Regions from separate parts of the Homo sapiens genome. Here regions 1 and 3 are each linked to region 2. The links come from fine-mapping of genetic effects on gene expression. A gene starts in region 2. Each other region holds a variant in brackets. All regions are shown on one strand. Distances are between the middles of the regions. Region 1 holds the start of C3orf52 (chromosome 3 open reading frame 52). Region 2 holds the start of TBILA (TGF-beta induced lncRNA). Region 3 overlaps TMPRSS7 (transmembrane serine protease 7).

Region 1 (6,100 bases), 47 kb before region 2:
AGAATTGCTCTTCACAAAATACATGAAAACCTTTGCATAAGTCTGTGATCTCGGTTAGGGGATGGAGGAGGGCTGGCATGATCCATCAGATTCATCAGAGGGAGTTTTTGAAAGCACATGTATGTACTACCTCTATAGGCCCTCACTGGTATTAAAGTGAGTACACGATATGCTGTAGCAGTGCTGGGGCAGGGAAAAGGTTGAAAAACAAACATAACTTGCTTGGATATTGCATGTTAAGATGCATTTAGAACCTGAATGATGTGGGAATATCCACTTCATTCTTGCAAAGGTGTGAAGTAAGGCAAGTCCCAAGAATGGTTTTGTTAGCAGAGCAAAATGGCCTTCATAAATTAAGACAGAAGCATTTCACGTGCCATATTATCAGGGAGAACTTGTAGGGACTCATGCCTTCTTTCACAGTGCCTTGAAAATAGCACAGTGAAGCACCACAAGCAACCATTTCTCAATTGTTTTCTACTTGATTAGCTTGAGTGGCTGACCCAGTTGCTGACGTTCGGAGTAGTATTGCTTGCCATCTGACAACACACAGGAACAAACTGTTGCGTATTCCAGAGTCACAGACCTATTTGAAGGGAATGAGATGCCTTTGGTGTATTGGTGATATCACTCTGATGATGTTACTTTGTTTTTCAGTTTATATGATAACCATTTAGAAAATTATTTGCTTCTAAAAAGGATTTAAAAAGAAGAGCAAGTACTATTAAAAAAAAGCAACATCAAAAATCTTATATTGGTCAGCAAATATAAGTATGTTTTAATTTTTTAATGTTACTTAAATTAGACACTTCAAACAAACTAAAGCAATTGAGTCAATAATAATTTTAAATTATATTAAAGAAATCTATTTTTGAAATAATAGTATATTTAAAAAGCCACCCTTATGTAAATGAATTCTGAAGGAATTACAAAAACAAATCTAGGTAGAGTTTGGTTCCTCATTCACAAATTCTTGACTTTCATCAGACTCGTTTAATCTAAACTTGGTTGTACCTCTAGGGAGAAACACCTCTTCCTAACTTATTCTGAATCCTTAGTGTGGAGTGAAACTGGCAGGATGAAGAAAGTCTTCAGGTAGGGTTGGGACTCTCATCTGCATTCTAGGTCAGCTGTCTGGAGATTAAGAAATTTGCAGTTAACAGGAACAGGAACAGGTTGCAAATAAGAATTTAGTTCAGGTAATATGGGAGGTGTCAGCAAGTGTCAGTGATCAGGAAAATAGGACAGCACAGGAAGAAAAACCAATATCAAAAGAAAACATATTGAATCAAGGGTTAGTGCTGGGTGCTAAGGGTCGGGGGAGAGTGGGTATTAGCCACAAAGACACAGTCAGGGAATGTAATGGAGCATTTACTGAGATCCTTTCATTTTTCAGGCACAGGAATAAATTCTTTACCTTAATCTTCCTGACTCTGCTAGGTAGGAATCATTTTATAAGAAAACAAGCAGACATTGAACAGCTTGCCCAAGAACACACAGATAGTGAGAGTCTAAATTTGATCCTAGTTCTGTCTGCCTTCAGAACTTATATTCCTTCCACTGTAACATGAGAACAAGGGTTAGGCATATGGAATTATAGAAATGCATTTAAATCTAATTACAGAGTATATAAACCTTGCTTAACAGTACTCAAAAGGCATTAGAAGATGTGGTTTAGGGTGTGCTTGAGACAGGAACAGTTGCTTTTTGATTCTCTGGGGGAGTGAGGGAGGCTTTAGGTATCTGTGCATGGAGAAATCAGGCATGGAGATAGCTACTATCCATCTGAAGTGAGAAAAAAATCTCACATTTAGGATGAACTTCTGCAATCAAATAAGGGAACTATGAGAAAAGTTTTCTGGACCCTGGGTAAGGATGGGGGTGGGGAGAATCAGAAGTTTGAGAGGTGTCAGTGCTTCCAGTCAGGTCTGCATGTTTTCGTGACTACAGATCCTATCAAGACCTCCCTGCAAATTCCCACACCCTTCAATGGCTCTAGTTCTTTATCAGTCTCCAGTCCCTTTTAGGCCTAGGAGTGTTAACAGCTTCTCGCTATTGCTAGTCCCTGGGTACGTCACCATGCCTTGTTGATTCCCTTAACCCTTGCTCCTTGGTTAAAAAACCTGTTCAAAAATCCCAGCTGAGAATGCAGCCTGATTCTTGCAAGATCCACCTGTTGGAGCAGAAGTCAGTGCAGGTCAGCAGATGAGTCACTGCAGACTCCCCTTAGCAGGCAGATGGATCCAAAGTTCAGGGGATCTGGTAGCAGGCATCAGACTGCTGGAGACAGGATATCTAGGCTGTGTCTCAACATCAGGTACTGAAGATGCCAGACTTTTGGACTCAAGTCAACATATTTGGAGTGGAGCTGATTTATATGCTTCTTGTTAATGGTCTGGTCTTAATGTGTGTGTGTGTGTGTGTGTGTGTGTGTGTGTTGCGTGGAGGGTGAGAAGTAAGGAGCAAGACTATTCGGAACAGAAGCTTGAGAGTTGAGGCCCTTGGCCCAACCCATGCTGTGCTTAACAAACATAATTCCATGCTAACTAAACCGGAAGTTCTGAACTACAGATAGGGTGTCAAGGAGATTGTGTGTGCGCGTGCATTGTGTGTGTGTGTGTGTGTGTGTGTGTGTAAGGCCCCTCCTCTCAAAGATAAATAATAATGGTCATTTATGAGTGCTTGCTGTGTCAATCACTGTTCTGAGTGCTTTGCTTACAACAACCCTTGTAATCCTGGTAACAACTACATTTAGGAGGGTACAAATATTACACCAACTTTCCAGATGAGGACGTTGGCACAGAGAGATGAAGACCGAGGTCTCACAGTGAGGAACCCTCTGGGTGGAGAATAACCCAGGTACACTGGTTTTAGAGTCCGCTGTCCCCAGCACCACACAATACTGTCTCTGTGCCTGACTCTGGACTTGCGAGGAAGTGTGTTGGTGTATATTATTCACCTTCATGCACTCAGAACCTAGCACCATGCTGGCACGAGGCATGGTTATTTGTTGATTGAATGAATGCACTTTTGCTAGGCCGCGAGGACTGTGGCAAACCCCAACAACCAACAGTTCGTAGGGTTAGATCGCAAACTTTTCTCCGTTGGACGGTGCTGCCGGGCCCACCCTTTCCTTACCACAGCCCGGCACCCAGGCAGCCCCTAAACGGAGATGGTCTGCATCTGCAGGCGCGGGGAAAGGCATAGCAGGCAGCGCCCTGAACAAATCAGAAAAACAGCCTTCGGCTCTGGAGCCCACTCCGGCACGGCCTCAGGTGCTCTACCCCGCGGGATCCAGGGAGTGGCCGCCACTCACAGTTGCCCCTCCT[G/T]TCCGCTCCGGTCCGCTCCCGCCGCCCGAGGTCCGCGACGCCCCGCCCAGTGGGTGGAGTGTGAGGCGGGGAGGTCGCTCGACTCGCCGGCGCTGTGGCCTCCCGCGGAGCCGCTCAGACTTTCCCTGCCGGCACATGGACCTGGCCCAACCCTCACAGCCAGTAGACGAGCTGGAGCTCTCGGTGCTCGAGCGGCAGCCAGAAGAGAACACGCCTCTCAATGGTGCCGACAAGGTCTTCCCTTCTTTGGACGAGGAGGTCCCCCCGGCCGAGGTAAGGTCCCCTTGGCGCTGGCCCTAACTTGCCGGCGGCGGGACAGTAGTAGGACCCGGGCCTGGCACCCGCGAGTTTCGGGTTTCCAGTCAGGCGGGGCGTCGACGGCGCCGAGCGAGGGTGGGGCGCGCTCGAGTGCTCTGAATGGAGCCGAGTCACCGCGACACCTTTCGGCCCGAGCAGTCCCCTCCCCAGCCCCTGGGGTCCTCCAACCCCTCTGACCCCCGAGGCGCTTTAGGAATCCTAGTGGTGAGGTGTGGCCGCTGCTGTCTTCAGAGAGGTATTCCGGAGATGGAAGTAGTTTTTTAAAGTTATGTAACTTTTAATTCAGTTTTTCTTTTTTCCAGTAGGGAGAATGAGAATGACAAATTGAGTATCCTCCTTCTCTCAGAATCTCTTCTGTCCTCCTCTTACCTTCACTGCCTTGCCACTTCTCTCCCTCCCCTCCACCCACCTCGCCGCAGCCCCCAGCCTTCTTCCATGCCTACCATCCGCCAAGCACTTTCTGCCTTCTCCCAGCCTGGCCATTGGATTCTGCCGGAAGAGAGATAGGGGAGAGCACAGAGGAGAGAAAGCGGTCAGAAGGGGAGAAGGGGTAGGGCTGGCGTAGAGATGGGGCGGGCGGGTTAGGGGGTCGGCGCGGGGGAGGTGAACTTGCCCTGCTCAATTGAAAGAAAATAATTTCAAAGTTCTTGTCTCGAAGGTTGAGACTTCGCCCACCTTGCTTTTACCTCCTCTCAATCCCTAAGGAAGTCCCTGGCTATTTTTAGGCCAAGCTCTTTTCTGATTCATCCCTAGCAATGATGGGAACATTATTCACTCTCATCAAAGACTTGTAAAACATCAGAGCTTTGACTTCCCAGCCATCCACCTTCTGATTAACTCCTAAGATTGGCTTGAGGTTTTCTGGGTGCACAGAACTCCCCATATAGAGCCCCGACCTGATCTTTCTAGGCCCCACTCCTCCACCCCCAACTTTTTGGCTGCCCAGCTGTTGATTTTAGGGATAAGCAGGAAATTCAAAAGTTGAAAGCATTGCTTTTGTTCTACATTGATTCCTGGAACTATTGCAAAGTCTGCTTTTATAGGTACTCTGGAGAGTAATTTGGAAACTTATTTCTGAATAAAATATGAATGCCACAGAAGAATGAAGGTTGAACAAAGATAGTCTGGTCACCAGTGCAAGTGGCCACAACTGTGAACTGGCTGTATGAGTCCTCCAGGGCGGTGTCCAGGAATGGGAGTTGGAAATACTTGCCTCAGATTAGATGGACCCGCACACCCTAAAGACTCCCTAGCTTGGGGCTGAATCCAGAAATCTGGTGACAGTTTTGCCACTAAGAAGTGTGTCCCAGAGGCAAGCCTGTCCCGTAGTGGTAATGTGTGCCTACTCGGCCTTCTGTGAGGCCTGGGAATGCCTTGTTGAAAACAGGTGGTGGGTAGAACAAGCCAAATCCATGCAGGGTTATCAGTATTCTGTAATTGTTTAGCACCTACCCTGTAGCAATGGTTCTTTAATGTTCTCATGACGTCCTTGTTAGTAAGGTATATACAGATACCCTGGACTTCTTTGTAAGTTAGCTTTGTAGGTCACCCAATAGGAGAGCTGTCCTCAGTAACAGGATGGAGTGAAGGTGAAGGGCTACAGGAGTACTTGGAGTGTGTTCAAGGAATGCCTTGAACTAATCTCATCTAATGTGTTAATCATTCTCTTTTGTCCTATAAAATAAAGTGAAGTGTATTTCAGTTAGAAAAGTCAATAAATATAGGCTCATTAAAAAGATTCAGACACTTAAGAATTTTGTGTGTTGGTCTCTTTGAACTGTATATTAAGATTTCTAATTTTGAAATGTAGCTGAAGTCCATGTATTTTCATTAACCCTGTTTAGTAACTGTCTTGTGACAAATACTTTTGATGCATAAATGCATTTAATTATCACAACTAACTTAAGAGGAAGGCGTCAGTATTCTGGTTTGTCAGATTGAAGATGCTGAGTGAAGAAATTGAGGGAGGCTCAGAGGAGTTACCAAAATCCTCAAGTTCACTCAGTGGTGCCTCTGAAGCTTGAACGTATGTTTTTTAGATCTCAAACCTTTGCTGTTTCTGTTGATTTATTCTATCTATCTATCTATCTATCTATTATCTATCAGCATTTAATTTAAATATGTTATATATAATTTATACTCATTTGTTTATAGTTGCCTAAGTTATTAATTATTACTAATTTCTATAAGTTAGGTAATTTATAATTAGGCAATTTAAGTGAGCTAGGAGTTGAGTATCACATCTGGAATGATGGAGTTGCAGGTGGATGGGTGAGGAATCGGGAACAGTTCTGGAATGATTGGGAAGAAGACATCTCTCTTCTTCCTTGGAAGAGCTGTGGTGGGAGAGTGAACAAAAGCAGTAGAAGGAACTTCTTTGCCTTTCTTGATGTGTGCTTGGCACTTGAGACAAAGGAATAGAAGCCACTGAACTCCACTTTGCCTGCTGTCAC
Region 2 (6,100 bases):
GCAATCACAATGGTGTCTCCACAAACTTTCTAAAAATTGTCGTAACATGGGGCATGTGGTCACTTCAGAAATAGACACCTATAGCTTAAAATAAAATGGCTAGGGTGGAGGTTGAGCACAAAGGTACCTGAGATAGACAAACAAAATGACAACAGGAAATAAGACCTTTTATTTTATAACAGGGCATAACAGGGACTAGCAGGGTCTTAGTTCCTGTTGCTAGGAGTTACATTAGGCTTCTAGCAAAGTAGCATATCTCCTGTCCAAAGTTTTCAAGCATTTTATCTTTTGTCCTGTCTTCACATTTGTTACTATTGCAACTGCTACTGGTCTAAACAGGGCCCTCTCTCACTGGGATGTGAAGTCCAGGGCTTGACATACTTCGTTCTCCTTGGGCAAGGTCTGGGGGGTGTTTGGTTGATTTTGCTCTCACCTGGATGTTCTCTGTTTGGGGCTTTGCATTCTCACATTCCAAGGCATCTCTTGAGTGTTCTGCTGCCGCCTGAAACTCAACATATCAGAAACAGGCTAAGTATTTCCTAAACAGGCCTGTCACTTCTTTTCATAATTTTTCCGACTTTCCTCATTTCTGCTATTTGTGTGTAACTCAGAAATTGACTGGTTGCCCTCACACATGTTAATACTGTTTCCTCAAGCACATGTCGCAAGCTACCTTTGATCTGACATGCTCTCCATTGCCACAGCAACAGCCCACTGATGTTCTCCAACCTCCATGAACAAGTGATCCTAAATCATCTGATCCCAAATATCCAGGGATCCTCGTCATGACCCTTGAGAGTATCCGTGTCCAGAGAGAGGCCTGAGGTCCTCAGCTACCATCTCTTTGGTGCAGTTCCAGGAGCTATGCACAAGTAATGGGGAAAGGTACTGGCTTTGTCTTGTGTAAATCACACCATCTTTCACAGAAAGCATGGAGGCCCAGAACAAGGGACAGAAGGAGAAGAAAAGGATTGAATAAAGAAAATAAATTGGTTCATTGTTTGGGTTAGATTTCTGTATACCCATCTTCCCACTTGTTGGGAATTGGGAGTATGAGGATAAAGAAACTAACACTTAAACACTACTTACTATATGCCAATCATTTTGTGTGTTATATTTCATTTAATCCCAGAATAAATCCATAAGATAGATATTATCATTATATTTTTTATACTAATGAGGAAACTGAGGCCCAAAATGCTAGGCAACTGGTCTGAGGATCCACAGCCACTAAGGGGGAAAAGCTGGGTTTGCTGCTGGCAGGTCTCTTCCTCTGAGACTGAGCTCCTCTCATGAAGGGATGAGTGCCATTCTATTCTGTGCAAAATTTCCCTGACTTCTTAGCTTATTTGATCTGGAGAGACACGGTTGGGGGGGTATGCTGACTAGATGATAACTGGGTGTTGGGGTGACAATGAAAATTAGATACCAATATATACAAGACTTTTGAATACGTTAACGGAAACATTTTATTTAATTATTTTAATGAATTTATTTTTAAGACTGGGTCTTGCTATGTTGTTCAGGCTGCCCTCAAACTCCTGGGCTCAAGCAATCCTCCTGCCTCAGCCTCCTGAGTAGCTGGGACTACAGGTGCATGCCACTGCACTTGGTTCAAGGGAGACCTTTTAAATCATCATAGAAATAAAGATGTTGGGCAAACTGATCAACTATTTGGAAAAAAATTTACATCTGACACCATATATTGAATATATGTTGCCAAATGTAAAATAACAAAATCAAAACTTATGTGAGTTGATTTGTCTTATCTTAGGAAGAGCAAAGAATTTTAAGCATGAATGCAATGGCAGAAACCAAAAAGCTTTCTAGATTTAAAATCGAATTTTCTTTAAAATAAATAAAAAACCATAAGAAGTCCAAATAGCATAAGATGTGTGCACCTTGGAAAAAGGTTTTTTTTCTTACATAAAACAAAATTTTAAAGTAAAAAAATTTTTTTAAAGTTTTTTTGCACTTATTCAGTGCACGTGATATGCCAGAAACAATGCCAGGAACCAGGAATTCAAAGATAAATAAGAAACAATCACTACATTTGAGCATCTCATATCTAGTAATAAAAATAGTAATTTATATAATTGTTAGAACAATGCTAGAGTAGAAGATTGACAAGGGGCTGTGACAACCCAGGGTAGAGAAGTCTCAGACAACATGATTCTTAGGAAGGGACATGAGATATTCCACAGGACCACCAATCCTCTTTTCGGCAAGTGGTCAAAAGTGGGCTACCATTTTTTCCTGTGTTCCACTCTCCAGTAGCATGAACTGAGACCAGGGATTCCAAACATAACCCTGTGAAGACCCCCTCTGGCTCGCTTACTCTCTCTAGATCACCCCACTTTATACCCTAGAGATTACCTTGTCTGTGGTGGCACTATTTTGGTGGCACGGCTTTGATATTAAGGAAGATGATGGTCAGAAAAAGAAAGCAGAAAATATCTTCTAATTTTGAACCCTACTTTATGTCAGGCACTATGCTAGCACAATACACACTAGAACTCTCTAAGGTAGATATTGTATTATTATTTCTACTTAAAATAAAGAGGCTGAGGTCCAGAAAGTAAATCTGAGTTCTGTGCCTATTTAATCTAGATGACCTCTGCTTACCTGCTTGCAGGGAGTGCACATCAAAGGAAGACTCAAGGTGGCAGGAAGCTTGCTGTTTATTTCAAACTTAAAATAGTGGCTGAAAGAGGGTGGTGATTTTGACCTCCTTGTGGAGCATGAGGAGCTCAGGAGAGCATCTCCTTCCCGGGCTTTCAGAAAGTTGTTTCATTTCTTAGGTGGTAACCTATTATATAGACCTTCCTTGGTAAAGTCTTTCCACCTTTCAGCTATTCTCCATCAGCTGCTCACCATGATTCTTGGGAGAAGGCAAAACCTATGGGAAATTTAATGTGGTATCTGGCACAGAGTAGGCACTGAAGGCTTGGCAGTTTCCTTACCCAACTACTTTCTACCCCAACTTAGTGTGCTAACTGTATACTAGCTTTCTTTTTCTCTTCCTTGCTGTATTGTCCTGTCCCATCTCCTCTGCTCTCCCACAGGGAGTCTAGACTTACCTGTTTTCTCTCAGCAGAGAATTTCCCATCCTCTCAGTCCTCTCAGGGCTTCCCCTCCGTCCCTTTACCACTTCCTTCTTGCCTTGTGCTCTGACAGGGCAACTCCTGACTTAAAGAAAGGGCTGTGTGGCTCTGGCCACCCGTGCAGAGACAGCAGAAAGGAGAAGGGTGTCTCTGCAGAGGGAAGGAAGAGGCTGGGGGAGGAGTGTTAGAGGCACGCATGTGCAGAATGTCCTAACATGTCAGTGCCTGAACCAACCTGGCTGTTGGCCATAACCAGCAACTACCCGTCAATGAGAGCTTCGAACCTCTGGGGAATCCCAGGTCTGAAATTACAGATGGGCCATGGGAGTTTTTCCACTACAGATATTTACGTTTATAAATCACGTTGTCTTCTTAGAAAAGTCAGAAGGAGGTTAAAACAGTCAAGCCACAGACCTGTAGAAAATATAGTATCAACAACTCTCAAATCTGAAAACAAACACCCAGTAACAAAATGGGCAAAATATTTGAACAGACATTTCACCAAAGGAACTATACAGATGAACATTAAAAGATGCTAAACATTGTAGTTATTAGGGAAGTGTAAATCAAATCCACAATGGAACACTTTTACATACTTATTACAATGGCTATAAAACCCTGACAATATCAAGTATGGCAAGGTATGCAAAGCAACTGGAAGTCTCATGCATTGCTGATGAGAATGCAAAATGACAGCCTTTTTGGAAAGAAGTGATAAGGACAGAAGGCAGGGCTTTACTGGGTAGAAGAGGGTGGTTCACTGGCAAAGGTCCCACCCTCAAGCCTTGAAACCGAAGCCCTAAATGAGAACAGTTATCCCTGTTATCCTGCCCAAATGTTACTCTTTAGCCTGTCCAGCCCCCCTATCCCGTGCCCATATAAACCCCAGACCTCAGCTGGCAGACAGACAAGCGGCTGAACATCAAGAGGAGAAGAAGCAACTGAGTGTCAGAGATGTGGCTTAACTTCAGGTGGCATGACTTCAGGGAGGAGCCCGGCCAGAGACAGCAGACTTCAGGGAAAGGTCACTTTCTTCCTGCACCATCCCCTTTGCAGCTCCCCTTCCACTGAGAGCCACTTCCACCATTTAATAAAATCGTCCACATCCATCAACTTTCAAACCATTCATGCAACCTGATTCTTCCTGGATGCTGAACAAGAACCTGGGTACCAACAGGGCAGGGTGTAAAAGGCTGCCACCCTGACTCTCCATTGAGTGGGTTAACACTTAGCTGTCCACGGATGGCAACTGCTAAAAGAGCATGAATTGTAACACATCCCTAAATGCTGCTGTTGGGCTGGAGCCCAAAAGTGCTCATCGAAGCCCTGGCACCCGCTTGCCTGCGTGCTCCCGCTCCCACAGAGAGTTTGAGCATGGTGGTGGCCAAGTAAGTAGGCCACACCCCTGTCGCAAGTCCCGAGAAGGGGTCAAGGGAACTCTCCCATCTCAGAAGTATGGCAATTTCTTATAAAATTGAACATAGGGTTACTGTACAACCTGGCAATTTCACTCCTAGGCATTTAGCCAAGTGAAACTTATGTCCTCTAAGACTGTGTGTACAAATTTTTATATGTGCTTTACTCATAATAGCCGAAATACCCTGGAAATAGCCCAACTGATCTTCATTGAGTGAATTGCTAAATAAGCTCTGTGTTATATTACATCCACACAACAGAATCCTGACCATCATTGAAAAGGAGTGGACTATTAATACATGCAATAACTTGGATCAATCTCAAATGCATTACACTAAGTGAAAGAGACCAGACTTAAAGCCTACCTTCTGTGACATTAGAGATAAGGTGAAACCACAGGAACAGAAAACATATTAGTGTTGCCAGGAGCAAAAGGTGGGGGAGGTGTTGACTTTCAAAGCACAGGAGGAAATTTTTTGTTGTTGTTCTTTATCTTGATTGTGTTAGTGCCCACATGACTGTATGCATTTCTCATAATTCACAGAACTGTATACTAATAAGGGTGCACTTCACTGCACATAAATGAATCTCAACAGACAAAAGGTTAAAAAAGAAAGAAATCTCGGGACAGGAATCATGGATTTTTGTATTATCCTTGTATTTGATGGTTGTTTCCAGTTTGGTCACTCATCTGTTTGTTCATTCCTTTAACAAGTATGTGTCGAGTGCCTACTATGTGCTGGGCACTGTAGGTTCAATGGTAAGAAAAGCAGATACAGGACTGCTCTTGTGAAGTTCCTTGAAAGAAATAAAACAAAGTGCAAAATATTTTATTGCTTGTCCTTGAGTAATGTAAAGGTCATATCTAAAACAGGCAGGAGAAGGATGGGGAGTGGGCTTAGAAGAAACAATTTCAGAGAAACTAGGGTACTAGCTGTGCAACCCCAGATTCATCTCACATCATTCTTATCCTTATGGCTGCTCTCCAAACTTCCTTTTGGCTCTGTGAGGGATTTCCAGGAGCACCTTATTAAAAATGGAAGATTTTATTATAAAAGATAAGCCATTATTGATCATTCACTTTTCTAAAAAAACACAAATGTGAGAATAAAATAAAAACACACAAGACTCACTAGCCCCTGCAAGACAGAAAGCAGCCCTGGACAGAGAGCCTCCTTATTATATACCTAATGCCTGAACTCACACATTCTAGGGTTTCATGTTTTGTTACCTCTTGCAAAGGATAGGAAACTGGCTAGAAAATTCATGTAAAGGAAGGTCACAACTTTAAAGCTATCTGACGCTAATGACTTGTATAATCTAGTTTGCAGCTCTGAGAGACAATATCAAATAAGCATTGTCAAATACTACTCCCACCTAACCTTTGCTGTCATTGTTCTTTGAAATTATCTTTGGGATTGGTTATGTTCTCTCACTGTAGCTTTCGTTTATCTCAGAGCACACACCCTAATGTCCATGTGCAGTCTCCATGCTCAAGTATTCCAGAATACAATTTTCTGGAGTCTAACTTCAGTTGACACCTGACTCCAAATTGCAAATCTACCTCCAACCAAAAAGAA
Region 3 (6,100 bases), 58 kb before region 2:
GTTTCTCCCCATCTTTGTGGTTTTATCTACCTTCGGTCTTTGATGTTGGTGACTTACAGATGGGGTTTTGGTGTAGATGTCCCTTTTGTTGATGTTGATGCTGTTCCTTTCTGTTTGTTAGTTTTGCTTCTAACAGTCAGGTCCCTCAGCTGCAGGTCTGTTGGAGTTTGCTAGAGGTCTACTCCAGATGCTGTTTTCCTGGGTATCACCAGTGGAGGCTGCAGAACAGCAAATATTGCAGAGCAGCAAATATTGCTGCCTGATCCTTCCTCTGGAAGCTTCGTCCCAGAGGGGCACCCGCCTATATGAGGTGTCTCTTGGCCCCTACTGGGAGGTGTCTCCCAGTTAGGCTACACAGGGGTCAGGGACCCACTTGAGGAGGCAGTCTGTCTGTTCTTAGAGCTCAAATGCCATGCCAGGAGAAGCACTGCTCTCTTTAGAGCTGTCAGAGTGGAACGTTTAAGTCTTCAGAAGTTGTCTGCTGCCTTTGGTTCAGCTATGCCCTGCCCACAGAGGTGGAGTCTATAGGGGCAGTAGGCCTTGCTGAGCTGCAGTGGGCTCCACCCAGTTTGAGCTTCCTGGCTGCTTTGTTTACCTACTCAAGCCTCAGCAATGGCGGACGCCCCTCCCTCAGCCAGGCTGCCGCCTGGCAGTTGGATCTCAGACTGCTGCGCTAGCAGTGAACAAGGCTCTGTGGACGTGGGACCTGCCAAGCCAGGCATATGTGCCACATTTGCTTAATCCAGTCTATCATTTATGGACATTTGGGTTGGTTCCAAATCTTTGCTATTGTGAATAGTGCTGCAATAGACATACGTGTGCATGTGTCTTTATAGTAGCAAGATTTATAATCCTTTGGGTATATACCCAGTAATGGGATTGCTGGGTCAAATGGTATTTCTAGTTCTAGATCCCTGAGGAATCACCATACCATCTTGCACAATGGTTGAACTAATTTACACTCCCGCCAACAGTGTAAAAGTGTCCCTATTTCTCCATGTCCTCTCCAGCATCTGTTGTTTCCTGACTTTTTTTTTTTTTTTTTTTTGAGACAGAATCTTGCTCTGTTGCCCAGGCTGGAGTGCAGTGGCACAGTCTGGGCTCACTGCAACTTCCACCTCCCGGGTTCAAGCAATTCCCCTGCCTCAGCCTCCCGAGTAGCTGGGATTACTGGTGCACACCACCATGCCCAGCTATTTTTTTTGTATTTTTAGTAGAGATGGGGTTTCACCATGTTGGCCACACTGATCTCGAACTCCTGACCTCAGGCAATCCACCCGCCTCAGCCTCCCAAAGTGCTGGGATTACAGGCAGGAGCCACCTGTAATTACGCGCCTGGCCTTTTCTAGACTTTTTAATGATCACCATTCTAACTGCGGTGAGACGGTATCTCATTGTGGTTTTGATTTGCATTTCTCTGATGACCAGTGATGATGAGCATTTTTTCATGTGTCTGTTGGCTGCATAAATGTCTTCTTTTGAGAAGTGTCTGTTCATATCCTTTGCCCACTTTTTGATGGGGTTGTCTGTTTTTTTCTTGTAAATTTGTTTGAGTTCTTTGTAGATTCTGGAGATTAGCCCTTTGTCAGATGTGTAGATTGCAAAAATTTTCTCCCATTCTGTAGGTTGCCTGTTCACTCTGATGGTAGTTTCTTTTGTAATACTGGCAGTTTCTTATTGCTTACTTGCTTTTAATGATGCTCAGGATTGTAGGATACAGAGGACCTGATGTAGAGGAACTTGCCAAATACTGGAATGGAACACGTTCCACTCTCACCCTTGAAGAAACAAACCTCCAAGGTTGTGAACAAATGTGTTGTAATTCACAAGTCTGTCCATTTTGCCTCCTACTGATATAAAATAACTGAGCATGGCTGTGATTTTTGCTCAAAAGTTTTCTTGGAGAATAAGAGAAGGTAATAGCAAAGAGGCTGCAGCCTAAAGCCACTGATATGTCGCACTTCTTCATGTCTCACCTGCTATGGGAGAAAGAAGAGGTGGTTGGATTGATTCTCAACAAATATGCCTGCCAGCGTTCAAATGGCTTTTCTTAGGTGAAGAAATGGATCACTGTGAGGTTGCTTCTCTTCTCTCTGCCATTTATCCCAGAGCAGCAAATACCAATCCTGTGATTAAACCATTTTTTATGGGGTTTGGAGTTATTCATTCAAATCTCATTCACTCAAGTTTGTTTCTGGCTAAGGAAAGCTGTTTCTTCTTTTGTCCATTGTTAGGTATTCCATGCAACAACAGAACTTTTAAGTGTGGCAATGATATTTGCTTTAGGAAACAAAATGCAAAATGTGATGGGACAGTGGATTGTCCAGATGGAAGTGATGAAGAAGGCTGCAGTAAGTAGAAATTCATTCCTTTGGGTTCCTGTATTCCCTCTTCAGTTTACCTGTTTGTTATATTTTCATTCCCTTCTTGGTGTATTTCCCTTGATCGAGGTTGCCATAGCCAAAACAAGAATAGTAACTATTGACAAACTGAGTCTGAAATTGTTTCTCAGAAATAAAAACTCTGGAATGGATTCTGTCTTCTTGATAACAGCATTAATGAATTAAATTTTTAAAATGAGAACTTTCACTTTTTAATAATTTTAATCAAGGGAGAAGATCTTAAATAAAAACCTTGTGAGAAAATAAATAGAAACTGGAACGCAGTGGATGACCTGTTAATGCCTTATGTTACTAACAATATCAAGTGCTGTTTCTTTAGGCCTGACTCAATAACTAATCTCCCACATGCTCCTATTAGTCATGTGGCTACTACTTGGCCATGTGGCAACATGTAAATTATACATCTTTACCAATACTATTTACACTAGCAAACAATTGCTCTGATAACTAGTTTTCCCTGTAGGTTTTCATTTGTCCAGGTCTTATAAATCTTTTCCCCAATCCTTTCTGTCACATCAGCACAACTTCAAAGAAATTCTCAATTCATTTACATTCCTCTTTACCTGACAATCTAAATCCATAGGCAGCTGTTTGTGTCAGTTCAGCTGTTACAGCAGGTCCCCCTCCTCCTCTCATCTGCGTTGTG[G/A]TATAGAGACTGTGTCAGGGCATGCTTCAGGAAGGAGGGAGTGGTTTGTTTGTATTGGTTTCAGACAGACTCACATGTTCTCTGTCCTCTAGATAAGGAGATTTCAAATTGCTACCTAGTGAGTCAGTTCCCAGCCAGCACTAAAACTGGCTTAACTTCTAGTTTTTCTTCCAAGTCTACCTTTAAATCACATGCCCTTTCTCCACCAAAGCCTGCAGCAGGAGTTCCTCCGCCCTTCACCGCATCATCGGAGGCACAGACACCCTGGAGGGGGGTTGGCCGTGGCAGGTCAGCCTCCACTTTGTTGGATCTGCCTACTGTGGTGCCTCAGTCATCTCCAGGGAGTGGCTTCTTTCTGCAGCCCACTGTTTTCATGGAAACAGGTAGGGCCTCACGGTCCTTACTTTCAAGTGGCACTCTGTGGCCATAGACAATATATCTGCCCTCAAATTGTGGGAAGCAGATCCCTGTTGGGGACATTCAATCAATTCAATTGCACTTTCATTTTTTGGATCCCACGTGTGTGACAAACATTTTTTTTTAAGGTATTATTGGTATAAAAAAAGCACAAAGGAAACATCAAGAATGAATAGGCTTTTACTAAGGCTGGGAAAATAAGATAGGGCTTTTAACTCAGAGGGAGCAAACTTAAGAGAATGTGTGGAGAATGTGGAGAAAAATGGGCACTGGAGAGTGACTGGAGAATGGAGGTCCCCAATGGGATTATGATGGGATAGATGCTCTTCCAGCCAAGGGTAAGAGGACATCTTAGAAAATAACCTCACTTAAAATTTAAACTTACTATTGGAATCTACTGAATCTTAGGTTAAAAAAATCATTCACTTCTCATTCTGCATTTTTTTTTTAGTATTTCAATGAAGTTACACAGTTTGGATATTTGTTTCCCTGAAAATTATAGGATTTGTGTTAATTATTAAGATAGCTTCACATCTGTTTGATCATGAGTCTCTAATGCTGTGAAACTGCTCCAAATAATGTATTAACCCTAATATTTCTTTGGGTGTCCATTGACACTCATGAGACATCAGCTAAGCAAATTAGTGACCAAAATTTTGGGGCTTCCTCATTTTTTTCACTCCCACTCTTTACCCCACTGCTATGCTGATGGAGATGGACGCTTCACATGGAGATTACAAGTTCTTCTGTGACTTGTGCAAGGTCATGGAGGTCAAGATTGGGATTCTGGAAGGACTGATGGGAATGGCAGTTGGTGACCCTATGAATGGGCATTGTTGAGCAGTAAGAGTAGTGATCATTAAGGCTTCCAGTAGTTTGCCAGAAGGAATTTCATTAAATTCCTGCTTATAGCACTTTGATTTCTAATCTATCTTGGTATTCATATCATTTGAATTTGGTAGTAGGATTCTCCATCAAATGCCATTGTCAGCATGAATAGGAAGAATGTAACAAATTAATTCTAGTTACCAACATTCTTGACCTGTGTGTGGTTCATGAAATACTAGTGGAAAGAAAATGTCCAGGCATTTGCTTAGGACACTGTTGAGTGAATTTTCTATTACTTGCCACTCCTAATACAGCTTACGTCATTTCTGACTTTTTGAGGGAGACAAGGGAGGCTCACAGTTACGCTTTCTGCCATGGTCCCCGGACAAAGCCAGTGACTATAATAACACCCTGGAAGTCAGGCCCTTCTTTTTCAGCCCTCAACTCTTTAGAGTGCTTGTTTGCAAACTGTATGTGGTTCTTTAAGCTGCTAACTTTATGTTTCATTACTGTTCTATCAGGCTGTCAGATCCCACACCATGGACTGCACACCTCGGGATGTATGTTCAGGGGAATGCCAAGTTTGTCTCCCCGGTGAGAAGAATTGTGGTCCACGAGTACTATAACAGTCAGACTTTTGATTATGATATTGCTTTGCTACAGCTCAGTATTGCCTGGCCTGAGACCCTGAAACAGCTCATTCAGCCAATATGCATTCCTCCCACTGGTCAGAGAGTTCGCAGTGGGGAGAAGTGCTGGGTAACTGGCTGGGGGCGAAGACACGAAGCAGGTGTGTGTATGAATGAATGGTCATGCCCTTCCCCTGCAGAGGATGATAAGGTGTTTATGTAGTGCTTTAGGGTTCACAGAGAGGGTTTGTGTATATGATCTCCTTTGAACCTCCTGACAACTCTGGAAGGTTGGATTGGAGGAGGGTACTGTTATTTCTTTTTAATGATGCTATCCACCTGCTTTAAAAGAAGCAGGGCTCACCTTATAAAGAGGGAGAGGACTGTGTATGAGCAAGGCAGGATTGACTAGATAGTCATGGGCCCTTTTCAAACTCTGAAGGTTATGCTATGTTATTCACTAGAGAAGGAGCAATTCCTCCCTTTTCATTCAAAGAAATGATTCATTTATAAAGGAGAGAAGGACACACATGCACATCCCACTATGTCAACTCATAGGCAACAGTCTGGGAGACTATGTGGGTATGACCTGTGCCTGTGCAATTGGCCAAGGGATGAGAGTAAGGGCTGAACTTCAGACTGCCCTTAGTTTCCAGACCAGAAACTCAGGCCTGGAGGTTATACCTCCAGGATTTGGATTTGGTCCACCCAGAGGAGATACCTTTTTGCTATTTCTCTGACGGGAGAGGACATCTTTTCAATATGCATAAAGATCAGGCTGTATAGTAGGGAAGTCCCTACATCTACCCTGCCAAGGTTTTTCATGGTCCAGGATTCAAGGTGGGATTCTGAATATATAGTGAGGGGAAGAATCCAATGCTTTGTGAATGTATCCCCAAACGCTAGTGCTAATATTTTCCCTTGATCTTTCAATCACCTCACCTTCTTTTGCCATCCTTTTCAAGGGTTTAGGACACGTACAGCATCTGTAATTCCTGAACCTTGCCCTGTAGCCTCGTTTTGACACTCTAAAGTGTGGGCAACTTCTCAAAGGCAGCTTCTCAGTGCTTTCATTTAGTGATTGAAGTAGTAATACCACCAGCTTGGGTCCACTGAAGTCTCAGGGTCCCAAGGAGGGAAGGCAGCTGACTGTGAACACTTGTAACTTTGATAGGTTA

The links.
Region 1: its variant is fine-mapped to the expression of TBILA in whole blood (TOPMed, PIP above 0.99). The same link has a PIP of 0.9 or more in T cells and blood mononuclear cells.
Region 3: its variant is fine-mapped to the expression of TBILA in whole blood (TOPMed, PIP above 0.99).

What each region holds. Positions count from the first base shown.
Region 1 is chr3:112,082,944-112,089,043 of GRCh38, forward strand. C3orf52 (chromosome 3 open reading frame 52) reads left to right here and starts at 3,446. Exons shown (of 6, transcript NM_024616.3): 1 at 3,446-3,602. The coding sequence starts at 3,465. RefSeq lists an enhancer at 3,108-3,624 and silencers at 3,141-3,190, 3,241-3,290, 3,311-3,360. The variant G/T (reference allele first, on the strand shown) is at 3,330.
Region 2 is chr3:112,130,012-112,136,111 of GRCh38, forward strand. It overlaps TBILA (TGF-beta induced lncRNA), which reads left to right and starts at 3,412. Exons shown (of 1, transcript NR_157393.1): 1 at 3,412-5,348. GCSAM (germinal center associated signaling and motility) reads right to left here and starts at 3,237. Exons shown (of 6, transcript NM_152785.5): 1 at 3,081-3,237; 2 at 434-502. The coding sequence starts at 3,109. It also overlaps a transcript of C3orf52 not described here. RefSeq lists enhancers at 2,843-2,902, 3,383-3,562.
Region 3 is chr3:112,072,062-112,078,161 of GRCh38, forward strand. TMPRSS7 (transmembrane serine protease 7) reads left to right here. Exons shown (of 18, transcript NM_001395507.1): 14 at 2,235-2,351; 15 at 3,260-3,431; 16 at 4,815-5,083. Among named protein-coding and RNA genes, the nearest start is that of C3orf52, 11 kb to the right of the region's middle. The variant G/A (reference allele first, on the strand shown) is at 3,049.